Homo sapiens: one gene and its partners. The protein of the gene in region 2 purifies or fractionates together with the protein of the main gene of each other region. This does not show direct contact. Each region holds a gene or a part of one and is shown on either strand. Other genes may lie near its edges.

Evidence for each region. Proteins that work in one complex are often made in the same cells at the same time.
Region 1: the proteins of MAFF (region 2) and CCDC6 purify together in Homo sapiens (affinity purification with mass spectrometry; 3 studies listed by BioGRID and IntAct, with this or other methods). This does not show direct contact.
Region 3: the proteins of MAFF (region 2) and GAPDHS purify together in Homo sapiens (affinity purification with mass spectrometry; 3 studies listed by BioGRID and IntAct, with this or other methods). This does not show direct contact.
Region 4: the proteins of MAFF (region 2) and GIT1 purify together in Homo sapiens (affinity purification with mass spectrometry; 3 studies listed by BioGRID and IntAct, with this or other methods). This does not show direct contact.

The regions. Positions count from the first base shown.
Region 1 is NC_000010.11:59,791,557-59,795,056, reverse strand, and holds part of CCDC6 (coiled-coil domain-containing protein 6), read left to right. Parts: intron 1-459; coding exon 460-584; intron 585-1,945; coding exon 1,946-2,140; 3' UTR 2,141-3,500.
Region 2 is NC_000022.11:38,204,223-38,209,262, forward strand, and holds part of MAFF (transcription factor MafF), read left to right. Parts: intron 1-5,040. UniProt on the Homo sapiens protein: Since they lack a putative transactivation domain, the small Mafs behave as transcriptional repressors when they dimerize among themselves.
Region 3 is NC_000019.10:35,536,456-35,539,955, reverse strand, and holds part of GAPDHS (glyceraldehyde-3-phosphate dehydrogenase, testis-specific), read right to left. Parts: intron 3,144-3,500; coding exon 2,966-3,143; intron 1,650-2,965; coding exon 1,553-1,649; intron 1,380-1,552; coding exon 1,273-1,379; intron 1-1,272. UniProt on the Homo sapiens protein: May play an important role in regulating the switch between different pathways for energy production during spermiogenesis and in the spermatozoon. Required for sperm motility and male fertility.
Region 4 is NC_000017.11:29,583,149-29,586,648, forward strand, and holds part of GIT1 (ARF GTPase-activating protein GIT1), read right to left. Parts: intron 469-3,500; coding exon 335-468; intron 1-334. UniProt on the Homo sapiens protein: GTPase-activating protein for ADP ribosylation factor family members, including ARF1.

The DNA.
Region 1 (3,500 bases), on a different chromosome or scaffold from region 2:
ATTGCTAAGATCAATGTCAGGGAGCTTTTCCCCTATTTTCCTTCTAAGAGTTTTATAGTTTAAGGTCTTATAGTTAAGTCTTTAATCCATTTTGAGTTGACTTTTGTATATAGTGTAAGAGATAAGGTCCAGTGTCACTCCTCTGCATGTGAATATCCAGTTTTCCCAACACCATCTGTTGAAGAGACTGTTCTCTTTCCCCGTTGTGTATTCTTGGTGCCCTTTTTGAAGATCAGTTGACCATATACGTGTGAGTTTATTTCTGGGCTCTCTGTTCTATCCTAGGAATTAACATTTATTTCCCTTGTTATCCACACCATTTAGTGAGCCCATCATTCTTTTCATCTGTTTGTATTTTTGTGGGTGATAGAGAACTACTGCGATTTAAAACCTCCTAGATAGTTGAAGACACCAGATAGTTGAGCTTAAAATGATACTTAATTTGTTGTTATATTTTAGGTCTATCATATGCAAGTCACACGGTTGGTTTCACGCCACCAACTTCACTGACTAGAGCTGGAATGTCTTATTACAATTCCCCGGGTCTTCACGTGCAGCACATGGGAACATCCCATGGTATCACAGTAAGTGTCCGTGGGGTAGGAAGCAGCACTTTACTCCTGAAAGTGGTACCGACTGGTGTTCTGGAGAACAGGATCGGTGCCCTTAGACATTTGCCCTTCTTCCTGCCTCCTCCATCCGTTCACCTTGAAACTGTAGAGACTTAAACAGTTTGATACCAAATTCTGGTATTGAAACTAAAATCCTTCCCAGGAGACAAAACTTTAACTTCACTTCCTATGAAAAATTACCCTTTGTGAAATATAATTTGAACTCTGGCCAGTGCTTTGATTGAACTCTGGCCAGCTCCTTGCATTATTGTTGGTTGCCATAATGTCTAAAGATATTTATTGTCTGCACCTTCACAGTTCACTGACCTTCAGTATTCTTCCTGAAGTTAGCCTTGTTTGTAATGTTACTCAGAATTTTCTCTCCTCGAATTACAAGGAAGCTTAAGTGCATCTGGTTCCAACTCTACCCAAGGGAGTTTTTTCTTTAGAGTCGGCAATATAGTTGACTAATAGAGCCATTAGAAATGTAGCTAGTAGAGTGAGAGTATTATTAAGGGTATTTCCAATAACAGAAATACCAATATTTCAAAGAATAAATTATAATATTTTAAAGAAGAACCCTATTCTAAGAATGCACTTAAGGTATTTCTGAAGCTGTTTGGCCAGTTTGATGGACTTTATGTAAAAGTAGGAACTTTTTTTTTTTTTTTCCTCACTCTGTCATCCAGGCTGGAGTTCAGCAGCATGATGTCTGCTCACTGCAACATCCGCCTCCGGAGCTCAAGGGATTCTCTTGCCTCAGCCTCCCGAGTAGCTGGTATTACAGGCACACGGCACCACACCTGGCTGCTTTTTGTATTTTTAATAGAGACGGGGTTTTGCCCTGTTGGCCAGGCTGGTCTCGAACTCCTGGCCTCAGGTTATCCACCCACCTCTACCTCCTAAAGTGCTAGGATTACAGGTGTGAGCCACTGCACCCGGCCTCAAACATAGAAACATTTCTGTTGAGCTGTATCTTTCAGGATGTGGACAACTTATTGGAGATAAGCAATAGAGGGAATTGGTGACACACACGGAAAGAAAGATTTAAGGGGATATTTTACAGCTCTCGTTGAAGGACCCAAGTCCAGCAGTTTGTTCAACACAAGTTGTGCAGTAATTTTATGTAGCTTTTTCATAGGTGGAAGTGTAAACACTGCCTTATTTAAATTTTATTACTAGTTCAGAAACCAGTAGGGATGAAGAAAGAAATCCCTGGTTTCTTGTCTTTGTTGGTTAGTGTTTGATTAGCCCCAGTGCCAAGTCAGGCTGTGTTAGGTAGAATGAGATCCACCTGTACCTAGACTGACTTGCTGTTCCTGTCCCCTCTGCAGAGGCCTTCACCACGGAGAAGCAACAGTCCTGACAAATTCAAACGGCCCACGCCGCCTCCATCTCCCAACACACAGACCCCAGTCCAGCCACCTCCGCCTCCACCTCCGCCACCCATGCAGCCCACGGTCCCCTCAGCAGCCACCTCGCAGCCTACTCCTTCGCAACATTCGGCGCACCCCTCCTCCCAGCCTTAATGCATGAGCTTAGTCTGAATTTCAAGTTGGGACTCATCCAATGGAGCCGTCTACTCAACGCCAAAGGCTTCCTTCTCTGGCATATTTGGATATGACTTATTTGCACTGAGGTTATCTAGGCTTCACTATCCATTGTGTTGTAAATGTTTGTCAGAAATGCAGCCAGTGTTGTGGGTCTACAACACTAACCAGACGACTTTTTCCATCAGTGTTTTACTTGAATCTTCATGTACGTCCATTCCCTGGCTGGAACCTTCGCTGTTTGGTATTTGGTATTTCAGCAGCAGTGTGCAATTTTTGCTTGGCCCAGAGCTTCATTCTCCTGGCTTTTAGGTTTGTAAAAGAAAAAGGGATATCTTTTTTATATTTTTTTCCATGAATCTGCAGAAAATTACTGAGCTGTTGTTACCCTCCTCTCATTATAATAGTGTTTACCAAACATACCAATAATTCAGCACTACAATTCAGACCTTTGAAAATCTGGCTTTCAGTGTAGAACAGAAAGTTAGATGAATCAGTGCCCAAGACATATTTTCTGTTTAACAGAACTTTCTACAGATACATTTTTTACAGGTTATTTTCATTGTGTTATTGACATCCATGTCTCTCGTAAAACAGATGGCCCAAAGTAATGAATCATGTGGCTGTACCTTCTCCACATAAATGGGATGGATAATTATCGTATATTAAGATGTGATTCTCTTTTTTATCCTTAATGTTAATCTACTTAACCTGGCCCCCTCTAACATGAGTCGATAAATGTTGTCCTACTCACCGGTGGTTTCAATGGCTAATTAGAATGTGTTATTTGATTTCTGCTGCAGAAGGCAGTGTGATTGTAACAAAAACAATGCGGCTTCCCCCTTTCGTACTTCATTTGTGTTCTCTTAAAATAGAGTTTGAACAAATATTTTAAAGGTGCAAAATACCATTAGAAAATACTATTTGAAATGGACATTATCGCATTATCTTGGCATAATGGCCAGAAAATATTGTATTGCTTGGCAGAAAAGAAAATAAGGTCTAAAGGAAAGTAGCACATTAGCATTGATGGCTGTTCATTTCACCCAGTATAAGCAAGTGCAGTGTACAAAGAAGTATATTCTGAATACATTATTTCCATTCATTTAGCACAAATAAATCATTTGGTTTCACTTTGCAGTGGAACACTGAGTCACTCTTTTCTTAACACGTGCAACATCTTAATTTTTGTTTTTCAGCAGTTGCTGTTTTGTACTTTGGTAGTAAAGTGATTTTTACCACCTGTGTTTGCATATTTATATATGCTGTGGATGAAAATAACTTACTAGAGAATGTATATTTTATGACAAGAATGTGTATCTGTTGGATATAATCAGAG
Region 2 (5,040 bases):
CAGCGGACACAAACTTGAAAAAAGATCCACAGAAGTAAATGCAAAACACAGCTTAGATGGGTGATGTGAGGGAGAAGTCACTGTGGTTTGAAAGTACATAACAGCGCTCTGACTTAGCCAGGGCAATCAAGGAAGGCTTCCCTGGGGAGGTGACTAGTGTGCTGAGTCTGATAGAGTGGTGGTTGTCTGTGAAGCCCTTGAAGGCAGGAGCTGTGATTCACTTCAGGGTCTCCAGGGCCCAGCACAGAGCCTGGAACATAGTAGGTGCTTCTTGGATGTTTGCTGATTGAATGAATGAGCCCTGGATCCCTGCCCTCTAAGAGCTCCACAACACATGGAGAAAAAGGCCTGGGAACCCCAGAGAAACAGGAAGCCAGGGCAGGGGCTGGGGGAATCTTGAAGCAGTCTCCCAAAAGCGAGCAAATCCTTCAGGACTCAGGCAACTTCCTCCCTCACACACACAGGCATGCACTGCCCGCTTGTCCCTTTGGGAAACATTCAGGGATAGTAGAATTTGCTGTCTGTTCATTCATCTGTTAGCATACGATCCTGGGAGAGAGTGGACAGGAATACGGTTGAGGCCTGAGGACCCTACTGTGTTGGCTTGCGGGGAGGCTGGCATTGCAGGGTTTTGAAATGGGCCAAGCACGGACAGGCTCGTGGGTTTGTGTCAGTAGTGATTCCTCTGACAGCTCTTGGGGGAGGATCAATGATGGGGATTGGAGACGGAGGGCAAGGCAAGAGGCTGGTGAGCAGGCGGTTGTGGTCATGGTCCAGATGAAGGAGGAAGTGGTCTGTGGCTGTGCAGGTGGAGAAGAGGGCTAGTCTGATAGTCTGATAGTTTGTGTCTCATGCCCCCACCTCCAGGAAGCCTTCACCGCTTTCCTTTCCCTACCTCCATTCTGCTGGTGGTCTTGGAGCTCTGGGCCAGAATCTGAAACTCTAAACTCAGAGACAGTCATTGTTGGAAGGTACCTTAGGCTCGGAGGACGTTTGGCATAGTGGGAAAACTGAGGCCCAGAGAGAGGGAGTGCCGTACCTGAGGCCACACAGCGAGTGTGAGAGGGTACCTGAACTGGGGCTGGAACCCCAGGCCGTTGCTTCTCTGTGGTGCTTGGTTCTTCCAGCCTTGCTCCCCTTCCAGCAGGGAGGAGGCTCCAGCAGTGCTGACTGCCAAGAGCTAGGAAAACACATTTTTTCCCTGTCCTCACAGAGCGAGCAGAATGGCTCAGCAGCCAGAAAGGAGCCCATGCCAGCGGGTGGGCCTTCTACAGGATGTCTCTGGAGTGGACTGGTGGGGCCAGGGAGGGGGACGTTGGAGGGTTGTGGCTGCTGACTGGACAAGGCAGTTGTCAGTCCCTCAAGAGTCACCTCTCTCCTTATGCCTCCAGAAGACGTCATGAACCTGCAGACCCTGGAGGTCAGCTCTGCTGGCTTCCAAGGGAAGAAGCCAGGGAGAGGTGGTGGTGGCCGACATAGAAGACAGAGGACCCCTGGGTTCCAGTCCGCCACGGCTACCAAACAGTGGCTTGGTTGCCTCAGGTGCTGAACAGGGGATCGGATCAGCTACTATTTCTCAGGCCCAGGGTCAGCCAGCCTGGCAAAGGCAGAGGACCCAGGCCCCTTGGCAGCCCCTGGCCTGGGGTTGGCAGCGGAAAGCCTGAGGTTACCAGAAAGTTCCCCCTTCTTGTGACTTTCCCCCTGTGATTGCCTGACTGCTGAGCTAGGACATTCCTGGGCAAACGTGGGTGCCTCAGCTGACATCCAGGATGCGGTTGAGGGGGCTGAGGCTCGGACAGGAGGGCATGGAGGAGTGGGGGAAGAGCAGGTTCAAAACCTTCCTAGCACCTGAGGGTATTTACAATCACAGCCAGCTTCCGCTATTATCAAGGATAGGGAATGGCTGATGGTTCCATCTCTCAGGCCTGGTCTGGAGGCAGTGTTGAGGATTCTAGGCTGTGTCCAAGCTCAGGAGAAAACAGTTCTGTGCTGAGAAAGACTCAGGGGCTGTGGCCTGCCTCACTGGGAATTGGTGCTGTGTGTGGTTAGTGATGTCTCTGTTGCTTGTGGATAGTGGGATGATGGTGAGATGAGGTGATCTTTCTTGCCTATGCCTCCTTTTTTTTTTTTTTTTTTTTTGATGGAGTCTCGCTCTGTTGCCCAGGCTGGAGTCCAGTGGCTTGTTCTCAGCTCACTGAAACCTCCACCTCCCGGGTTCATGCAATTCTTCTGCCTCAGCCTCCCAAGTAGCTGGGACTATAGGTGTGCGCCACCACACCTGGCTAATTTTTGCATTTTTTTTTTTCTTTAGTAGAGACAGGATTTCACCATGTTGGCCAGGCCGTTCTTGAACTCCTGGCCTCAGATGATCTGCCCACCTTGGCCTCCCAAAGTGCTGGGATTACAGGCGTGAGCCACCACGCCTGGCCTTGCCTAAGCCTTTATATTTTACACACCAAGATTATTGTGATTATTCCCACTTAGCAAGGAATCCAGGACTCAGGAAAAATGACTTGTGCATGAGGCCAGACTGTGCCTCTGAGGTTCTGTATCAGCCGCAACACCCAAAGGGCAGTTGATTAACTTGCGTGGGGAGAGGCTTCCCTTCTCCCATTGGGTCTTTCTGTGTAGCTCAGGTGGCCAAGCATCACTGCACGTGCCAGCTCCCCAAACGGCTGGTAAGGGGGCCTGGATACTTAACTGTAACTTGCAAATCGTATCCCTAGCGGGCCCAACACAAATCCTGGAGAATCAGAGCTGGGGTGGCCTTGGAAACTGGCAAGTCCAGCTTCATCTTCACAGGGCTAGGGAAACAGGGCCCAGGGAGGTCGCCCTGCCAGGGCCACACAGGGAGGAGGTGTGTGGCTCCATGTGGCCTCAGGCCTGAATTCTATTATTATTATTATTATTATTTTTGAGATGGAGTCTTGCTCTGTCACCCAGGCTGGAGTGCAGTCGCGTAATCTCGGCTCACTGCAACCTCTGCCTCCCAGGTTCTAAGCGATTCTCCTGCCTCAGCCTCCTGAGTAGTTGGGACTACAGGTGTGTGCCACCAGGCCCAGCTAATTTTTTGTATTTTTAGTACAGACAGGGTTTCACTGTGTTAGCCATGATGGTCTCAGTCTCCTGACCTCATGATCCGCCCACCTCGGCCTCCCAAAGTGCTGGGATTACAGGCATGAGCCACCTTGCTTGGCCATCTTTTTTTTTTTTTTTTTTTTTTTTTTTTTTTTTTTGAGACAGAGTCTCGCTCTGTCACCCAGGCTGGAGTGCAGTGGCGCGATCTCAGCTCACTGCAAGCTCCATCTCCGGGTTCACGCCATTCTCCTGCCTCAGCCTCCCCAGTAGCTGGGACTACAGGCGCCCACCACCACACCCGGCTAATTTTTTTTTTAAGAGGCGGGGTCTTGCTTTGTCACCCAGGGAGTGCAGTGGCGGGATCACAGCTCACTGCCGCCTTGAATTCCTGGGCTCAATGGTTCCTCCTGCCTCAGCCTCCTGAGTAGCTGGGGCTATAGGTGTGCACCACTGCACCCGGCTAATCTTTTTATTTTTTGGAGATGGAGTCTAGCCATCTTGCCCAGGTTGGTCTTGAACTCTCAGGCCTGAATTCTACCCCATGCTGGCTGTATGAGCCTGGACTACTCTATTGTCCTCTCTGGGCATTACCTCAGGGTTGGGCGAACCAGGGAGGTGACGGTGTGAAGGGACCAGGTTTCAGTCCTGGGCCTTTGCAGCTATTCATTCACACCTATTGTGTGACTTCAGGCAAGTGCTGCCCCTCTCTGGGTCTCTACCTCCCCTTGGGTAAAGGGAGGAGGCAGGACCTGATGGCCTCTAAGGGCCTTTCCTGCAGTTCCCTGTGTGACCCCAGCCAGCTGGGAGATGCTAAATCAGAGCGAGACCCCAGTGCTGGCTACAGGCCTGACCCCTCCTGGACAGACAGCAATTCTAACCTCCCAGCTGCTCACTGACCTCTACAGTGTATACCACTTGATTCCACCAAAACCCTGCGAGGCAGGTATTGTTCCGATCCTTTAGATGGGAAAGTGGAGACCCAGAGAGATGGAGTGGCTCACCCCAGGTCACACAGCCTGAGAAAACAGAGATGCGACTTAAACCCAAGCTTGACTCCCAATCCAGTGCTCCTTTCCCTGTTTCCCACACCCCACCTTTGGGCCCAAAGTCACGTGGATGGGATCCCCTCTGCTCTCTTCCCATTCGCCTAGCATCTGTACTGTCTCTGCCAACAGGCCCAAGGAAGCAGCTGGAGAGGAGGAAGAATTAGAGACAGGGCCAGGAGGTACTGAACTACGTTTCGGCTTGGAACCCGGCTTGGTGACAAGCTGGGTGATGGCGTCAGAGACTCTGACCATCCACCCTTCCCCAGTGCCTGCTCCCTGCCAGGTCTTGAGATGGGTGGCCTCAAGCACCCAGAGCTGACTCAGCCTCTCCCTGTCTGGTGGAGAGACAGCAAGGAAATACAACCCATTACACACAGGGGTGGGGGTCCCTAACAAGTCCTAGGGATCAGGGAGGGCTTCCTGGAGGAGGAGATGTCTGCACCCAGGGCCGAAGGATGAGTAGGAGTCTGCCAAACAAAGTAGAGGGGAGTGAGGGGAGAGAAATATCATGGGGTGGGAGGTGGCTCAGAGGCAAGAAAGCGCGGGTGGGAGGAAGTGAAAGAAATTCTGTGTGGCTGGAGCACAGAGTGGAGGTGGCAGTGGTGGGAAATGGGCGTGGGGCTGGACACACAGGGCCTGGGGTGCTGGGAGGGTGGGTCTGGACTCCATCCTTAGGATAGTAGGGAACCATGGAAGGTTTTTTTTTTGTTTGCTTGTTTGTTTTTGTGTTTGTTTTTGAGATGGAGTATCACTCTGTCGCCCAGGCTGGAGTGCAGTGTCGCGATCTCGGCTCACTGCATGCTTCACCTCCCGGGTTCACGCCATTCTCCTGCCTCAGCCTCCTGATAGCTGGGACTACAGGTGCCTGCCACCACACCCGGCTAATTTTTTGTATTTTTTAGTAGAGACGGGGTTT
Region 3 (3,500 bases), on a different chromosome or scaffold from region 2:
TTGCACAAGTGACCAGAGAAGGCAAGACCTGAGTCGGGACCGTGGACGGAGGGGGCAGCTAGGTGGGGAAGAGGGATGACTCCAAGTGGCGGTAATGGTGGTGGCCACGTTGAAGTCTGCGTGATAACTATGGTGCTGGAGTTGTTTCTAGTGTCATGATTTCAAACTTGGGTTAAGCAGCTTTCTTCAATTTTCACTGACTCTCCAGTCTCTGCCCCCTGCCCACAAACTTCCTGCACCCATCCCTGCCCCTTTATCACTCACCCTACCCCCAGTAAGTACAAGGAGAAGGGCTGAGATTAGATCTGTGGGGAGGGGCGCTGGGGAGGCTGCAGACCCTGCCTGGGCCCAGACAGGGTTCACTAGTGTGCCTGTGTGTATTTGCATGTGTGTGGGCCTGTGGGTGTGTATGTGTAAAAGCCCCAGGCAGCCACAGAGCCAGGAGTCGCTAATAGTTTACATTAGAAAGGTGAATGTCAGCCAAAAATAAAATTCTAAACTCCCCCAACTAACTGAATGTAGCCCTTCTCTCGGCCCAGGGCATTCTAAAGTAAAACTGAAACACTGGTTCAGGCCATGATGGGAACGGATGTTCGGATGTTCGCACAAGCCTCATTATACCTTCCTCCCTTTGGAATTCAGGCATAGTTGACCAGCAGTGGTCAATGGGAGCTGAATAGGTGTGGGTTGAAGGGGAATCAAGAGTTGAGTTCTGGACATGTTGATATGCCCACGAGAAAACATGCAAATGTGCGTTAAAGCAAAATGCAGTGGCTCCTGCCTGTAATCCCAGCACTCTGGGAGGCCAAGGTGGGAGGATTGCTTGGGGCCAGGAGTTTGAGACCAGCCTGGGCCAGATGGCAAGACCTCATCTCTACAAAAAATTTGCCAGGTGTGGTGGCTGGTGCCCACTACTTGGGAGGCCGAGGTGGGAGGACCACTTGAGCCCGGGAGGTCAAGGATGCGGTGAGCTATGATTACACCACTGCACTCCAGACTGGGCAAAAGAGTGATACCCCGTCCCTAAAAAAAATATAAAGAAAAAGCATTCTTCAGTACAGTGAGGCATCTTTTTAGATTAGTGCTTCTTAATCATTTTAGGGGTGAAGGACCTGAGACTTCCCTCTTCAAATTAGTACCTAGAGGCATGCACACGCAATTTTGGGGGTGGTTTCAGCACCCCATGTGAGAGGCTGGAATCCCATTTTAGCCACCTCCACATGCCCTGCCTCAATATGTCACAGCCGTGCATCAGACAGATGCTTTCCTTACCACTGGTAGACAGAGATCTCATGGTTGTCCACGACCAGTTGTCCATTCCTGAATTCCACACTTCCCTTGTATCGGCCGTGGGTGGAGTCATACTTAAACATGTACACCTGTGGGGGATGGAATGGCTCCTAGTCTTGGGGTGGCAGGGTGAGGATCCCTAGAGAGTCCCCTCTTTGGTGAAGGTCTCACATTACAGCTGAGAGCCTTCCATACAGCTTCCCTGAGTCCCTTTCCCACCCCAGTCCCACCCTGCTGTTCCTGCCCTCTGCCAGCTACTGACCATGTATTCCGGGTCAATGAATGGATCATTCACAGCCACCACCTTAACACCCTTCTCCATGCAGGCGCGCAGGACCAGGCGACCGATGCGTCCAAATCTGGCCAGGGACAGACAGGAAGGGATGGGAGAGAAGGGGGTAATGGAGAGGAGGCTCCCTCAAGGAGCCTGGTTGGGAATCCTTAATCCAGGGGAAGAAGGCAACAACCTCTGTGCTGGCCATGGGCATCTCTTGCCAAGATGACCTCACCAGCCCCTTTAACTGCTTTTTCAGCTCCCTCTCCCAATCCGTTCCCTAACCCATATATACATATATATATATATATATTTTGAGATGGAATCCAGCTCTTTCGCCCAGGCTGGAGTGCAGTGGCGCTATCTGGGCTCATTGCAACCTCTGCCTCCTGGGTTCAAGTGATTCTCCTGCCTCAGCCTCCCAAGTAGCTGGGACTACAGGCGCGTACCACCACACCTGGCTAATTTTTGTATTTTTAATAGAGACGGGGTTTTGCCATGTTGGCCAGGCTGGTCTCGAACTCCTGACCTCAAGTTGATAGACCCGCCTTGGCCTCCCAAAGTGCTGGGATTACAGGCGTGAGCCACTGCGCCTGGCTCCTAACCCCTATTCTTAACCTTGTAGCTGGATGGATCTTTTATTTTTTCATTAAACAATTAAAACAATTTTTTTCTGTAGAGACAGAGTCTCGCTATGTTGCCCACGCTGGTCTCAAACTCCTGGTCTCAAAGGATTCTCCTACCTTGGCCTCCCAAAGTGCTGGGTTTACAGGTGTGAGAGCCTGGATGGATCTTAAAACTTCAAGACAGATTACGTCTCTTGGCATGAAAACATCCACGACTGTCCATCAGTAAAACAAGATCCACACTCCTTACTGTGGTGTAGCAGCCCCCTCCGGGCTTCTCACTGGCCTCCCTCCTTTTCCCTTTGCTTGGTGGACACCAGCCACTCTGACTTCCTGGCTGTCCCTGAACATACTGAGCTCGCCTCTGCCCCAGAATCATTGCTTGTCCCGCTGCCTGGAAGACTCCTTCCCCAGCAAGGTGCCCTGGGAGCTGGCTGTGTCTCATCACTCTGGTCCCGCTCCAATGACACCTTCTCCCCAAGGCCTTCCCTGATCACTGGCAAAGGCTGCCCTCTCCAGCCTGACTTTTCCACTGGATTCTACACTGTTCCCAGCACACTCTACTGAACAATCTAATTTCTTTATTTGATTACTGTCTTCCCCACCAGCATGCTGCTGAGCATGGGGCCCTGTCTGCCTTGCTCCGGGCTATTTCTCCAGGGTCGTCGGAACGAAAGCATTGATGGGGGGAAATGTGGAGGTGCCCCCAGTTAGCAGCCAGAGGAGGGGCTGGGCTCTAAGGCTTCAGACTGATCAGGGGCTGGAGTAGACTCACCCATTGATGCCCACAGTCAGCTCCCGGGCCACAGACACCATCTTAGGAGGAGGAGTAGCGGGGTGAGGAGGCAGTGGTGGCGGTGGTGGCTTTATTTCCTCCCTGACTGGTGTGGGCTCTGGTTGTGGCTGGGGCTCTACTTCAGCCTTAGGCTCAGGTGGGGGCGGTGCTCTGGTCACTATGCGGGGGAAGGGAGGGAATGGGTTGCATGACCACCAAAGTGAAAGAGAACAAACTGTCTTTGCTGCCCAGAATCTGTTGCTGGCTCCTGGCCCCTCGTGACCAACCATTTAGCCCAGTGTTTCCCAAACCCACTTTCTCTACAGAATGAACTTGTTTAAAATGTCAATCCCAAGGGCTCTTTCCTGGAGATTCTAATTCACTGGTTATGTACTTCCGTTGTTTTTTTTTTCCCGAGACAGAGTATTGCTCTGTCACCCAGGCTGGAGTGCAGTGGACTGATCTTGGCTTACTGCAACCTCCGCCTCCTGGGTTCAAGTGATTCTCCTGCCTCAGCCTCCCGAGTAGCTGGGAT
Region 4 (3,500 bases), on a different chromosome or scaffold from region 2:
GCCTACTGTGTGCCCGCACCACCACACCTCCATCTAGTCCAGCTGCCCAAAGACACAGATCCCATGAGTGTGCCAAGGCTCAGAGAGGTGAAGCAACTTGCTCAATGCTACACGACCACGTTGATAAGTGGCAGAGCAGGGGTGTGAGCTACTCTTCTGCATGAAGTGAGTAGATGGGAGGAAAGGGTCAGGATTAGCCTCTGCCCTAGGGGGGTGCTGCCCCTTGGAAGCTGCAGATTCCAGATGGGGGTGTATGTGGGTGAGGGGGAAACGCCCTCATGCTCAGCACACTCTGCCTGAGGGGAAGGAAGAACCACCCGACTGAGCCCTGTACCTGCAGCAGCGTGGGAGGCCAGGCGCTGTGGCGAAGGTGCTTGACAATGGAGATGTGGCGTCCCAGGCTCCGGTGCACGCTGCAGCACTCGTCACACACCAGCACACCCCTGCTGATGGATGCCCAGCCAGGGTCTGCCAGGGTGAGGGCAAGGGTCAGCCGGAGCCAGATGATGGGCCAGACCTCCTGAGCACCTGCTCTGGCCCGTGCCAAGCCTAGTACTCTCCACACATTCACTCACTCAGTCTCCAACAGCCTAGGAGCTGGGACCATCACTACGGCCAGGTTACCAGTGAGGGATCTCCCCAAGAGCTCACAGCTGGGGGCTGACAGAGCCATGCCCTTTCCTACATCCTTACCCCTCTGGGATATGCAGTCCCCAGGGCCCATTCAGCAGGCACAGTTTCCTGCCCTGCAGCCACTGCTACCAGTCTCTCAGCCTTTTCCCAGGAAACGAGGTCTCTGCCCCAGCCCGTCCCGAAGGGAGGAAGGGATCCCCAAGGGGATGCAACCCAGATGCTGCTGCATGCCAGATGCTGTTGAAACATGCCTGACAGATCACACCCGTCCACAGGTCCTGCCTCTGGCCTCCTGCCAGCAGGTGAGGTCCTTTCATGCTGGAGCCTCCTGCCATCATCACTGAGGGTGTAAGCTGGAGCCCTCTTAAGGAAGATGGACAGAGCAAAGGAGCTGGGCTTGACTGGGCACCCACTAGGTACCAGCTGGGTACATTATGTGTGATGCTGCTTGCAACTGTCAGGCAAGGTAGGACATGCTACCTCTGTGATGAAGAAACAGTGGCTCAGAGAGGTTAAAGGGCTTATTCAAGGATGCGAGGCTAATGAGTAGAATTGCCAGGATGTGGCACTTTCATGCCTGAGACCATGCCATGTCCACACTTGCTGCTGTCCCTCTGCCTCTATAGCCTGCTCTCCACTCTTTTGGGAAAAGTGAACTTGGGAGAAGAAGCAGGGCCAGGACTGGGTGGGAGTTCCGGGGTTCTTCTCAAGGGTGGAGGAGATGCCACCCATCCTAGGCCCCTTGGGAGACAGCTGCATACGACTCAGGCTGCGGAAAGGTCACGGGGGAGAAAGCAGCCATTGTGTGCCGCCTGAGAGTGGGGGCAGGGCGCCTCTCTCCCAGGACACTTTGCTCTGCCCAGCGGCCCCCACCCTGTCTCAGGAAACCCTGTCCTGGGGTGGGGGTGGGGGACTGGCTCTCTGCCTTGCCCTGTAGCGCTCAGGGTGTTCAGAAGTATCCCCATCAGGGGAGGGACAGGCTTAGGGGGATAAGAATCTCTCCCAACTAGAAGGCAATTCTCAGGCCTTTCCCCTCTAAGGACTTCCACCAAAGTTCCCAGGAAAATTGAGGAGACTCTGAGTCAGGGGCCCAGCCTGAGCTCTGCCCACAGCAAGTGACCCCCACTGAGGCATGAAAACAGGAAGTAAAGGAGAGAGGCCTGTCTTTGGGTTTAGGCTTTTTTTTTTTTTTTTTTTTTGAGACGGAGTCCCGCTCTGTCGCCCAGGCTGGAGTGCAGCGGGTTTAGGCTTTTTAAGGGACCCCCTCCCAATCAGGGCAACAGAGGGATGCCCAAGGTGACCGCCAACACCTTCCTGGGGGGCTGACTCCAGGGCTCAGGAGGAAGGGACCAGCCTTCTTCGCCAAGAGGGGGAGCCCTAGCATGCACTTCTGGGCTGGCTTTACCCAAATAGTGAGGCACCCCAGGTGTGGAGACCTCCCTCTCCCCACTCCAAACACCACTGGGTCAGGGGGCTGCCAGCCAGCCACCTCCAGCAGCCCAGGCAGGAAGCCGGAAATGATGCAGCCCAAATTCCTCTTGGTGGGGTTTCCTGTAAGTGGGGAGCCGCCCAGGGCAGGATCATAAATGGGCTGATCTGAGGTCTGTGGTCCTACCGGAGAAGCCAGGCATGGAAGGCTGACTATATATCCACGGCCAATGGCTCCAGAGCCCTAAGCCATGGGCAGACCAGATGTGGTGAGTGACCCTGGCTATGGCAGTAACCAAGACCAGGATGCAGGAGTGTGGTCCAAGGGTTTGCCTGGCACTTTCCCCCAGCCTGGGGGAGGGGTTCTCCTTCTCCTCCAGGTGACCTGAGAAGAATGGTAGGCAAAGGACACTGTCCTGGTCTGGGCAGCCGCTATTGGTGTCAGCTCATTTCTGGATGACACAGATGGGACGCCCACCCTAACCATTCTGTCTCCTCCCTCTGTGCAAGTGCCCTTGGGACTACCCAGATTGTAGTTTAAGGTGAAGGGATCCTTGCGTCAAGAAGCTCCTTGGACCAAACCTGGGACGGAAAGGACAGGAACTGTAAGGGAACTCGTCAGCCCTCCCCCTGCGCTTCTGGCTCCACCGGCAGGGTATGGGTCTGTATGTGTGGAGAGGTAGCAGGCGTGATCCTGGGATCACGTTAACCAGTGCCAACCCCATGGAGGCCTCTACTACGGTGAATTCCTGCCACCACCTGAAGCCATCAGTGGCCTCCAGGGCCAGTAGGTTTGCACATACAGGCTAGCCTCAGGCCTCCCTCCCCTGAGCTAAGGGCCAGATCTCCACTAGACTAAGGGAAAAGCCCACATCATGAAGGCAGGCGAGAGTAGTCCTTGGGGTAGAGTCAGAATGGTGGTTACCTCTGGGGTGCACGGACTGGGAGGGGGTACTTGGAAGCCCCCTAAGGTGATGGAAATGTTCTATAACATGCTTGTCTAACCTGCAGTCCATATGCGGCCCAGGCAGCTTTGAATGTGGCCCAACACAAATTCATAAACTTTCTTAAAACATTATGAGACTTTTTTGTGACTTTATTTTTTATTTTTATTTTTGCTTGTTTTATTTAGCTCACCAGCTATCATTAGTGTTAGCGTATTTTAGGTGTGGCCCAAGAAAATTCTTCTTCCAATGTGGCCCAGGGAAGCAAAAAGATTGGATACCCTTATTCTATAACATGATCAGAGCAGTAGTTACATGGGTATACACACATGTAAAAGCCCATCAGGATGAACACTCAGGTGCAGGCATTGACACACACAAATTCTACCTCCATAAGGGAGGAAGAGGAGCCCAACATTTGTCCCACTCTGCAATCTACACTATGAAGAGACAAATCAGCCTGTAGCTTGTCCCGTAACATGTCCCCGGCCTTGC